Linked DNA regions of Homo sapiens: region 2 is linked to region 1. The links come from fine-mapping of genetic effects on gene expression. Tissue or cell type: hypothalamus. Region 1 holds a variant in brackets; the other region holds the start of a gene. All regions are shown on one strand. Distances are between the middles of the regions.

The links. PIP is the estimated chance that this variant, and not a neighbour inherited with it, causes the effect.
Region 2: it holds the start of TEKT3, and the variant in region 1 is fine-mapped to the expression of TEKT3 in hypothalamus (GTEx, PIP 0.93). The same link has a PIP of 0.9 or more in nucleus accumbens.

What each region holds. Positions count from the first base shown.
Region 1 is chr17:15,552,370-15,560,931 of GRCh38, reverse strand. TVP23C-CDRT4 (TVP23C-CDRT4 readthrough) reads left to right here. Exons shown (of 6, transcript NR_037924.2): 2 at 5,568-5,650. TVP23C (trans-golgi network vesicle protein 23 homolog C) reads left to right here. Exons shown (of 6, transcript NM_001135036.2): 2 at 5,568-5,650; 3 at 7,103-7,247. Among named protein-coding and RNA genes, the nearest start is that of TVP23C, 6.8 kb to the left of the region's middle. The variant T/A (reference allele first, on the strand shown) is at 4,241.
Region 2 is chr17:15,340,043-15,344,042 of GRCh38, reverse strand. It overlaps TEKT3 (tektin 3), which reads left to right and starts at 2,446. Exons shown (of 9, transcript NM_031898.3): 1 at 2,446-2,525; 2 at 3,982-4,000.

The DNA of each region.
Region 1 (8,562 bases):
TTTTAATCCTTTTAAACGTTTGCTCACATCAACATATAAACGTGTTTTAATTTCTCTTACCTTAAAAAATGAAAACTTGGCCGGGTGCGGTGGCTCACACCTGTAATCCCAGCACTTTGGGAGGCCGAGGCGGGTGGATCACGAGGTCAGGAGATCGAGACCATCCTGGCTAACACGGTGAAACCCCGTCTGTACTGAAAAACAACAAATTAGCCAGGGGTGGTGGTGGGCAGCTGTAGTCCCAGCTACTCGGGAAGCTGAGGCAGGAGAATGGCGTAAACCTGGGAGGCGGAGCTTGCAGTGAGCCGAGATCGTGCCACTGCACTCCAGCCTGGGCGACTCCGTCTCAAAACAAACAAACAAACAAAAAAAACAAACTTGACACCACATGCTCTTTCACTGGTCACTCCATTCTTTTTCCTTTAAAGACTTGTATCATATATACTTGTCTTTTAATTCTTCCAGTCTCTCTTGTATTCATTCTAGTCAGTCTCTCTTCCCCTCTCCCAACTGTACTGGAACTGCTCTTACTGAGTTCCCCGATGACCTGTTAAAAATACAGTGGTCATGGCTGGGCGCAGGGCTCATGGCTGTAATCCCAGCACTTTGGGAGGCCAGGGTGGGTGGATCATGAGGTCAAGAGATGGAGACCATCCTGGCCAACATGGTGAAACCCCGTCTCTACTAAAAATACAAAAATTACCTGGGGGTGGTGGCATGTGCCTGTAGTCTCAGCTACTCGGGAGGCTGAGGCTGATGCAGGGGAGTCCCTTGAACCCGGGAGGCGGAGGTTGCAGTGAGCCAAGATCACACCATTGCACTCCAGCCTGGCGACAGAGCGAGACTCCGTCTCAAAAAAAAGAAAAAAAAATACAGTGGTCTCTCTTTGGTTTTCATCTTACTTATGAGTAGCATTTGACACAGATGATGGATCCTCCTCCTGGAGGCACTTTGTTTGGTTTCCAGGACACTACCCCCTCCTGGCTCACCTTATGTTCCTTGGTACTTCTTTTTCAGTCCCCACAGCCTATTCCTTCTTATCTTTGTGATCTCTAATTATTGGAATGCCAGGAGTCTGTCTTAGCCATCTTTATCTTTTTAGTTGTTCAGGACAAAAACTTTGGAATCTTCCTTGATTCCTTTTATTTACCCTTCCTCCACCTCCCCAGTCAGTCAGTCCATCAGCAAATCCTGTCAGCTCTACCTTAAAATGTACTTGGAATCTATTTCTCATCACCTCCACTGCATCCATCTTAGACCAAGCCACTACTTCTTGGCCTCGTGATTAAAGTAGTTTCCTAACCAGTCTCCTAGCGTTGTGCTTTTGTCCCTCCTTCTTCTCCCCTCCCCCTCCAGATTTTTACTACAGTAGCCAGAATTCTCTTTCTAACAGGTGAGTCAGAACATGCAGTCTTACACTTAAAACACTCCAATGGATCTCCCTTTCAATGCTTTTTTGGTTTTAGCATCTTAAAATGTCGTTTAGCATCTTAAAATGTCCAAAATCAAACTGCTGATTTTGCCCCGAAATCTTTTGTGTCCATGGTCTTCCCCATCTTAGTAAATGTAACTCCAGGAGTGCAGAGCTATTTGTCTTTTTTTTTTTTTTTTTTTTTTTAAATCTGTACCACTTACAGCAGTACCTGGCACTTGGTAGGCACTCAGTATTTACTGAATAAATGAGAAGAAATCAGTCTTTCAAAGAGCAGGGTAAGAGAATAGTGTTCTAGGTAATATGAACCATAAGTGCAAAAGAACCTGACGGGGCCCAAGTTTGGCATGTTTAAGGAACTGAAAAGAAGGCCAGCCTGGGCATGGTGGCTCATGCCTCTAATCGTAGCACTTTGGGAGGCTAAGGCAGGAGAATTGCTTGAGCCCGGGAGTTTGAGACTAGCCTGGGCAACATAACGAGACCCTATTTCTGCAAGAAATTAAAATATTAGATATGGTGGCTTGCAGTACTCAGGAGGCTGAGATGTAGAGCCTGCAGTAGTGACCCCTGATTGTTCCACTGCACTCCAGCCTGGGCGAGAGCCAGACCCTGTGTCAAAAAAAAAAAAAAAAATGGCCAGTCTGGCAGGAGCTTAGGTACTGTATAAATTTCCTGTTGCTACTGCGGCAGTGAAGTCATATGTACTGTTGTAAAGTTCTGGTGGTCAGAAGTCCAGAATGAGGCTCAAGGGGTTAAACATCAAGGTGTGGGTAGGGGTTCTGGAGAATCAGTTTCCTTGCCTGATTCAGCTTCTAAACACCTGGGATCCCTTCCCCATCTTAATGCCATCAGCACAGCCTGTTCAAATCTCTGTCTCTCACCTCTACTTTGCTTGTTTCATCACCTTCTCTCACTGACCCTCCTTTGTTTCCCTTGTAAGGACCATTGTAATCATGTCATCTGACCAGCCTGGGTAATCCAGGATGATCTCTTGACCTCAAGATCCTTAACTTAATCTCATCTGTGAAATTCTTTTTGCCAAGTAAATTTACATATTCACAGGTTCCAGAGATTAGAACCTAAACATTTTTGGGAGGGGTGAGGAGGTATTCAGCCTACCACAGTTAATGAAGAGTGAGTGGCCTGAGATAAGGTCTTAGAGATTGGCAGGGACCAGATCATGATAGGTCATGATAGGGAGTCTGTTTTTCAGTCATAGTGCTGAGAGGTTTCAGTAGGGGAATGATAGGATTTGATGTGAAAAAGTCTCCCTGGCCGCTGGATGGCGATTAGACTGTTGGGATCGAGAGCAGAAGGCCTCAGCTTTTTATTCATAACATCATACGGTGGATCTCAGTCTTGCTGTACGTTATGATCACACCTCAAAGCAATTATATCTGAACCACTGAGGGCTGGACCCAAGTATCAGCCTTTTTTTGTTTGTTTGTTTGTTTTTTAAGAAAAAGAGCATTCTAATTGTAGCCAAGGTTGAGAACCACTAGTTTCATAGATCTGAATCCATTTTACCTTTTCAGCCTTAGCTCAGTAGGAGCTTCTCGCATCCATCACTTACTGCATGAGCTACTTGACCATTTCTTAGACAAACTTCCTGTATTCCCACCTGTGCCTTTCAAAATATACCTAGTCTAGGGAGGCCTACGCGGACTGTCAGGGCCCAGCTGACAAACTCTCCTCCAGAAAGCTTCTCCAGTGCCCTGTAGTAGGAATGATTTGCTTCCTTCCCTGGCTCCCATTTGCACTTAGATTTCTCAGCCCTGATCACAGTCAGCTGTATATTATCGTCTCCTTTGCTTATTTACTCATGCCTTCAACAAATACTGTACCACTTGGCTGAATGCTCTGCTAGACACTAGGATTTACTACAATGCAAAGACAGTCTTGGTTGGGCGTGGTGGCTCACACCTATAATCCCAGCACTATGGGGGGGTGAGGTGGGCGGATCCCTGGAGGTCAGGAGTTTGAAACCAGCCTGGCCAACGTGGTGAGACTCTGTCTCTTCTAAAATTACAAAAATTAGCCAGGCTAATTAGCCGAGACACACTCCTGTAATCCCAGTTACTCAGGAGGCTGAGGCACTAGAATCTAGCTTGAACCCAGGAGGTGGAGGTTGCAGTAAGCTGAGACCATACCACTGTACTCCAGCCTGGGCGACAGAGCAAGACTCTGTCTCAAAAAAAAAAAAAAAAAACCTTGTCTTCTAGGTCCTCCAGCAGCTTAATCTATATGGAGGTAGGAGCGGGTAGATGTGCAATAAGAATACTCTGAGATAATTGTTCAAATGGAGATTCGTCCAAGTGCTGTGGGAACATGGGGATTTCAGAGACAGGTTTTCAGCTATTTCAGTATTTGAGCTAAAAAACTTGAAGGATGATTTGGTATTTGGTGGTGAGCAGGGCATGGGGAAGGGAAGAGTTTTCTGAGACAACATGTGAAAGGCAGGAGATGGGAGAGAGACCGTAGTGTTCTTAGAGACCATGTAGTAACAGTATTGCTTCAGTGCTCAACAGTGCTCAATGAAGACAGTGTCAGAAGCAAGTAGGGGGCATTAGATTCTGTGATCTTCTATGCTTTATGTGAAGGAGTTAAATTTTATCCTATACTTGTAGGGATGCCATTGAAAAATTTGAGCAGTAGAGTGACATGGTGTGATTTCCATATTGGGAGGATTGCTCTGGGTAATGTAAAGGAGAGGCTGGAATAGAGAGGGATAAAGGCAGGGAGGCTGGTGAGTGGCGCTAGGAGAGGAACAGGATCAGGTTTGTTGTAGTTGAGGGGAATTGCAGTGAA[T/A]TGAGGTGTGAACCACTCTTAGAAGCCTAAGGTTATGGGGCCGGGCATGGTGGCTCACGCCTGTAATCCCAGCAATTGGGAGGCCGAGGCGGGTGGATCACAAGGTCATGAAATCTCCTGGTTAACACGGTGAAACCTGTCTCTACTAAAAAAATACAAAAAATTAGCCAGGCATGGTGGCACGCGCCTGTAGTCCCAGCTACTTGGGAAGGTGAGGCAGGAGAATCACTTGAACCCAGGAGGCAGAGGTTGCAGTGAGTTGAGGCCACGCCACTGCACTCCAGCCTGAGCGACAGAGCAAGACTCCATCTCAAAAAAAAAAAAAAAAGCCTAAGGTAAAAGGAAGCAATGCTTTGGGAAGGTAGAGGATTGAAGAGGAGATTCAGGATCAGGGTTCTTAAAAAAATCTTTTTTTGCCTAATAAGTGGCCTTGAAGAAGTTTATATGCATATGCTGATTAGAAAGATTCAATAGAGGCCAGGCGTGGTGGCTCAGGCCTGTAATCCCAGCACTTTGGGAGGCTGAGGCGGACAGATCACCTGAGGTCAGGAGTTCAAGACCAGCCTGGCCAACATGGTGAAACCCCGTCTCAACTAAAAATATGAAAATTAGCTGGGTGTGGTGGCACACGCCTGTAATCCCAGCAACTTGGAAGGCTGAAGCAGGAGAATCGTTTGAACCCGGGAGGCGGAGGTTGCAGTGAGCCAAGATCGTGCCATTGTACTCCAGCCTGGGTGATGAGCAAAACCCCATTTCAACAACAACAAAAAAGAAAGATCCAATAGATAGACTTGAAGATAGAAGAAAGTGTAAATACAGGGGAAAATGATGAAACAAATCCCCGAGGAGGCATGAAAAGAAGTTATTCTGAGCACAAATAATTGGTTTAGCCTTGGATAAGAAGAGGAGGAGTTGTGAGAAGGGGTCATGGAACTAAGGATGCAGTCAGATGATTTTGTGAAGGAGCCAGAAACCTTGAGATTATCCCCAGTAGCCTCGGCTTGCTCTGTGACTTGGGAGAGAACAGGTGAGGAGGACAGGTGTTAAGTTGTAGTAGCCTCATCTGCACCCCAGAGTTTTCTCAGATGGTGCAGCCTAGGGGCAGGGATGGAGGAGCTGAGACTTCGATTATTCTCTGGGGTTTTTGCCAGATGATTTGAGGAGGCGGGTGGAGGATCTGCATGTGTCCTTTTCTAGGTTTTGAATTCCTGATGCTGTAACCACATTATTTTATCTTCTATTTTGATGAGTATGCAGCTTTGCATTGCAGTGGCTGTGTAAACACTGAATTTTGTTTTGCTTCTTGACCATTTATTTTTCCAACCAGGATAGTAATGATGACACTGAAGATGTTTCACTGTTTGATGCGGAAGAGGAGACGACTAATAGACCAAGAAAAGCCAAAATCAGGTAGGAGGAGAAGTTGCATGAGCTGTGTTAGTGTCCAGTGTTGTTCTGTATGTATGTCAGTGCTAGCTGATGGGAGTCAAGGCAGAGTTGTTTCAATGTGCTTGTGAATACTGCATGTTGCTAATTTAACATTTAGTGTAAGACAAAGATGACATTTCAGATTTTCTTGTGAATAATTGGCATACTTAATACTGAGTTTTAAAATCAGCAAATCCAATTATTTGAACACCTGTGTTTTTAATTCTGTGCTATTTTCCAAGAATGTACCATTTCTTTATATAGTTTCTGTAGATACTTTACATTTTGATTTATTGTGCACATTTCAAAATCACATAACATTTCTATTCTAAATTTAATTCTCTCTAAATAAATTCACTTATCGAAAGCAAATTCTACTTGAACCCTGCTAAAATGCTGTTTTTTACTTTTCTTTCATCTTTCATGCCAGTCACAAAAGACCACATATTGTATGATTTCATTTATATGAAATGTCCAGAATAGGCAAATCTGTAGAGACAGAAGATAGATTAGCTGTTGCTAGAAGCTGAGGGGTTTGAAGGTAAATGGGGAATGACTGCCAGTGGGTGCAAAGATTCTGTCTGGGGTAATGAAAAGTTGTAAAATTGGAGTGATGGTTGTACAAATCTGTGAATGTACTAAAAACCATTAGATTGTTTACCTTAAATAAGTAAATTGTATGATATGTGAATTATATCTCAAAAAAGCTATTAAAAAACAAGAAACAGGCTGGGCGCGATGGCTCACGCCTGTAATCCCAGCACTTTGGGAGGCCGAGGCAGGTGGATCACGAGGTCAGGAGATTGAGATCATCCTGGCTAACATGGTGAAACCCCATCTCTACTAAAAATACAAAAAATTAGCCGGGCGTGGTGGCAGGCGCCTGTAGTCCCAGCTACTTGGGAGGCTGAGGCAGGACAATGGCGTGAACCCAGGAGGTGAAGTTTGCAGTGAGCCGAGATTGCGCCACCAAACTCCAGCCTGGGCGACGGAGCGAGACTCCGTCTCAAAAAAAAAAAAAAAAAAAGAAACAAACAAACTACCTGATAACTTTGTCTTAATGTCTGAGTGATTTCTGAGGGCTAAGGAATTCTTTTGGCGTGATTTGAAAATAGGATTCAAATTCTAAGATACGGTTTCCTTATTTCTCCAAGAGAGGTAAAATTCTTTATTATCTATTTTGTGAAAGTTTATATTCAATGAGGTGTTAAAGTCATCTGTGCATAGTGTATTTTCTGTCACTATAGGGCCTAGTCAAATAGTGGGGCTTAAGAAAAAGAGAGCTAGGAGGTTTGCTTCCTCCTACTAAAGTCACCTCTTTTATTTTGACAAAACTCTTCACAGTTACACGATGGCTAAAACATTTTTCTCTACATTTGCTAGTACCTGTAGTAAAATGTAATTGCATTTCTTTCATTGTGTTTTGGTTTTCAGACATCCAGTAGCATCGTTTTTCCACTTATTCTTTCGAGTCAGTGCAATCATCGTCTGTCTTCTCTGTGAGTTGCTCAGCAGCAGCTTTATTACCTGTATGGTTACAATTATCTTGTTGTTGTCGTGTGACTTTTGGGCAGTGAAGGTAATTTTGATTGTTTTTATTTTAAAATTATATTTAATATGAAAATGATGTATAAAAATATGACAGCATTTTGCATTATTGTTAATCTTTTGTTACTTCAAACCTCATCTGTGTTGAAGTGCTAGATATATCAAATTGCATGTAGTTTTTTTTTTTTTTTTTCATTTTTTCCCTTTGACAATACAAGATGAGACATGTAGGTTACTGTGCTGCTGATTTTTCTGTGCCATATTCTAACCTACATCAGCTTTAAAGTCAAATAAACAAACAAATGTGACTAGCAACCATAGACCCTACAATGTTGCTTCTAATCCATACCATGGGTTTTGCTTCAGGCTTACCTGTAGGTGTGTTGTATATAATTTCTAGATAAGGCCCCAGTGTAGTTTGTCCACAAATACCTAAAAAATACCTACCTTTTGAAAAGGCTCCTATGGATGCTTTAAGGCAGTGTTTCTCAACCAGAGACAAGCTTGCCACCCACTGAATATTTGTCAGTGTCCAAAATTGTTTTTGGTTGTCATGACTGGAGGTGGGAGGAGTGTGCTATTGACATCTAGTGGCTAGAGGGCAGGTATGCTGCTAAATATCCTAACACACAGGACGGCCCCTCTGCAACAAAGAACTACCTGACCCAAAATGTCAGTTGTGCCAAGGTTGAGACACCCTGCTGTAGGGGATAGAAAGGAGTGTAAGAAATGGTTTCAAACTCAAGAACAATGATTAGAGAGATGGATGGATGGATAGATAGGTACATAATAAATAGATAAGTAAGCATAATAAAATATTAAATATGGACTCTAGATGATAGATATTTGGGTATTCACTGTAAAATTTAACTGTGTGTGTTCGAAAATATAGTAAAATAGTGGAGAAAAAAATCAAAGGCTGATTTTGGAGTTTCAGAGACATATACTGATTCAAAGACTAGTAAGATGTTACAACCCTATTCACATCCACCAATGTAGCCATTTTTAGATCTTTTAATTCTTTTTTTTTTGAGACGGAGTTTCACTTTTGTTGCCCAGGCTGGAGTGCAATGGCATGATCTTGGCTCACCGCAACCTCTGCCTCCTGGGTTCAGGTGATTCTCCTGCCTCAGACTCCCGAGTAGCTGGGATTACAGGCATGCACCACCACGCCTGGCTAATTTTTTTGTATTTTTAGTACAGACGGGGTTTCTCCATGTTGGTCAGGCTGGTCTCGAACTTCTGACGTCAAGTGATCTGCCCGCCTCAGCCTCCCAAAGTGCTGGGATTACAGGCGTGAGCCACTGCGCCTGGCCATCTTTTAATTCTTAAAGATATCTGAAGTG
Region 2 (4,000 bases), 210 kb after region 1:
AGGTCAGGGGAATAGGAAGAATGTGATGATTAACTTTAGTGCTGGAGGAGAAATGGAGAAAGCAGGCTGTGGACGTGAGTCACTGTGAGGATGGGAACGGGGGTGGAAGTCCAGGGGTGAAGATGGCTAGGCCCACACTTGATTTCTGATAAGGATAGACAGCTCAAAGGGGCTGATAGCATCTTGATGAAGGGCGATGGTTGAGTGATAGGAAGGCTCAGAAAGACTGGAGAGGAGGTTTGGTGACTCTAAATAGAGTGAAAATGTAGCAGCTAAGGAAGTTATAAAAATGACTTCAAGTTATGAAAATGACTAAGGCAAAGTTATAAAATAGGCAAAGTCTGCTTTATTGCTTCTCCACTTCTGTATCTTTGATAGTTTCCTACCCCACTAAACATCACACTTCATGCTTTCATTTAACAAACATTGACTGAGTCCCTCTTTCATGGCAGGTAGGAAGCCCCATGCTGGGGATACAGAGATGAACAGAAACAGACACATTCCTGAACTTGTGGAGCTGCTGAGAAAGTAAGGTTGAATAGCTGAATCCTAGTGGTCTTGCTTTATTTTTTTTAATAAGCATTGTAGGAGGTCTCTATCGTACTGTAAAACTGAAGGGCAAGCATTAACCTCAATTCTGGCAAAGACTTGATAATCATGAGACAATTTTTTTTGAGAGGGTATCTAAATTATTTCCAAAACATCATTCAATCCTTTCTATGGAGAACAGAGTTGATCAATTTAACCTGAAATTTTAATCAGGAGGTTTTTGAAATTCACTGACTCAATGTATCATTGAAAAGATCAAATTCTGCTATAATTTCACCTGTTTATTTTTAAATCAGACATTGAATGAATTTTGTCTTCAATTAGCAATGCTATTGGGCATCTAGATGTGTGCAAAGCACAAAGACTGCTCATCATCTTTAAAGAGTTTGTGGGCAATCAGATCTACTTTAGAACAGTTGCCAGTCTTTTGGCCCAAAGAACAAACATGGCATCATTTGCTGCATTGTCTACGGATTCTAGGCATCTGCAAAGCCCGTGCTGAATACTGAAAATACAAAATGCAGAACACTATGCATGAGAAAAAAGTAATAAAAAAAGACAGCTCAGAGTGAAATGTTTCTTAGGCCGAATGTAGAAAAAGTTGCTGATAAGGAACATAGTGGGAAAACTAGTCAGGATTTGCAGTGCCCTGGTGTCGGGTATGGGAGCCTTGTCTAGTCTTGTGTCTAGGCAAATGAGTAGCCTCTGAGCACTGGGTGTTTTCTGTGGTTTTCCTCTTTGGGGAAAATACTCTGGGCTCATCTCCACAGTTAGAGGGGTCGTGTTGCTTAATGTAAACACTTGAGGCAGCATTCTAACTTTTCTAGATTAGGTTCCCATGAGTTCGGTTGGCCTGAGTCAGCCTCTAATAAACTCGGGACACTGGCATAACCAAGAGTCTGAATTGGCAAAGCTGAGGACCAGCCCCCGACTTGAAGTCACTTCATTGAGGTCTCCTAGGGGCTGGGCAGCCTGCCTTATCCTGGCAAGTCCCTCCGCCTCGTCCTTGGGTGGAGTGCCACACAGTGATTCCCAGAAAAGCCAAAAATAATTAACTGAGGGCTTTATTTTCTTTAGCATTACTAGTTACCAAAGTAACTCGGTGAATTCTCTTGCTGCTCACACGGTTAGACTGCTGCCTCATGGAAAGATGCCTTGAAGTTTGACTGATTTGAGTTTTAGTGTTAGCTCTGCCACTGAGTCACATTGTCTAAGTCAATTAACTTCTCGAACTTCAGTTTCTTCATCTGTACAATATAAACCCCTCTTACAGGTTTGGAAAGAGGTTGCATGGATGAGCAATGATGTATGTATGTAAAAATGTGGGCCAGCACCTGGAAGAAACAGTACGGGCTGCTGTTTACGGAAATATTTGCTGAAGAGAGAGAGGGAAAGCCCAAACCATTTTCTTAGAGTGAGGAAGCAGGGAAGGAACACTAGATAATTCTGTCACAGGAGAAGCTCTGCTGGAGAGAAGAGAGGCTGGTCAGGAAAGGTGGGGGCTTGTCAACACCTAGGCAGGTGTTAGGGTTCCAGGCAGCCCTGATGTGCCTTAGAATCGGCCAAGTTCTTCGCAGCTGGAAGAGTTCCGAATCAGGCTTCACAGGAGAGGTCGGGAAATCACCGAGGCCTCTCCCTTGGGCTACTCTTCACCCCTTTCACCTCCCAAACCAAGGAGGTCTCCCGGAGGGCGGGGAGCCTCGGTTACTAAGCGTGAGCGCGTCCATAGTAACCGCCGCCCGACGGGTTTCCCTCCTGGCCTGACAGCTCCCGCCTCTCCTATAACTGGCCAGTCAGCTCCGGCGAGCCGGCCGGGGCGGCCGCTGAGTGGCCCTCAGGCGCTGCTATCGTCACAGATAGGAAAGGCGGGGCCAGGGCCAGACTGGTCTGGGCCCCAGTCGAGGGCTGCAGGTGGTAGGCTGCGACCCCTTCCTCCCACAGCCCCTTCCCGCCCCTCGCCGGGCATCCGCCGACAGGTGAGTGGTCTCGCTGACTCTAGCCTGCCTCTAGGACTACCCCAAAGGATCCCCCTTCGCCAACCAGGACTCCAACTTCTCGCCTCAGGATCGCGGGAGGTCGCGGACACCCTGCAATTCCTCCCCGCGATCTTCACTTTTCCTTCCAAATAAAAACCGTACAAATCCACAGGCACCTCCCACCCAGACGTTGGTTTCCTCGTAATTTACCTTTCTGATGCTTTTCAAGGGTTTTCAAGGGATGCCCAGGGAAGGGGCATCCGAACCCCCGACACTGTGCTAATTCGTTTAATTTCTTAATTCTAATAATTACCCGTTAGCAGCGCTGTGCCTTTCCACTGCGGTGCTGGCCGCCCCGCACGCTGTTCCTCGTCCCCCTCTGCTTCAATAGCCGAGCCTTCAGATCTGCAGCCACGGGGAGGAGAGTTCAATCACCTGGTCTTGTAGACCGAGCTCCTTAAATTCAGATCAAAGCTGTTCTCTCACCGCCCAAAGTCGTTTCTGTTTAGCTTGGCTGCAAAGCTTTCGCTTGTGTTTGGGCAGTTTAGACCAAACCCCTTTATGTTTTCTCCTGGATGTATATAGTATTGTAGAGAAATAAACATCCTGGAAATGGGTAAAATTATTTGTTTGATTATTGTGAAAAAAATATACAGTTTTACTAACAGGCGAAAATGTTTTGAGGTAACTGACAAAATATTCTACTTTTTTCTTCTTTAAAATAAAATACTTCACACAATAAGTAGAGTGAACCCAGGGGTGAATCCATGTACCCAGTCCAAACTTAAACCAACAAAAAATCGATTACAGGCACAATTAAGGTCTGTTATGTAACCCTTGGAAATCCCATTCCCCTCTCTCCTTACCTATCCCTATTAACCAACAGAATTTAGCATTTACTTATATTCTGCATATTTTTATACTTTTACTACTCATATGTTTATCCTAAACCAATGTATACTTTTTTTTTGAGACGGAGTCTCGCTCTTGTCGCCCAGGCTGGAGTGCAATGGCATGATCTCAGCTCACCGGAACCTCCGCCTCCCAGATTCAAGCGATTCTCCTGCCTCAGCCCCCTGAGTAGCTGGGATTACAGGTGCCTGCCACCACAACTGGCCAATTTTTTTTTTTTTTTTTTGTATTTTTAGTAGAGAGGGGGTTTCACCAAGTTGGCCAGGCTGGTCTCGAACTCCTGACCTCGTGATCCTCCCAAAGTGCTGGGATTACAGGCATGAGGACCGCGCCCGGCCTACTGTTACTTTTTAAGTTGATAGAATGGTTATGCTGTACGTGTTGCAGGTCATTCATTTGAACTGTTGTGTGGTGATTCTTGCATGAATTTACCACATATTATGTATGCATCCTCCTGTTGATGGACTTTTAGTTTGCTCCCTTTAAAAATACTAGAAAGGAATTCTTGTACATTCTAATTGTAAACATATTTGCATTTCTCTAGGTACATACCAAGAAATTGA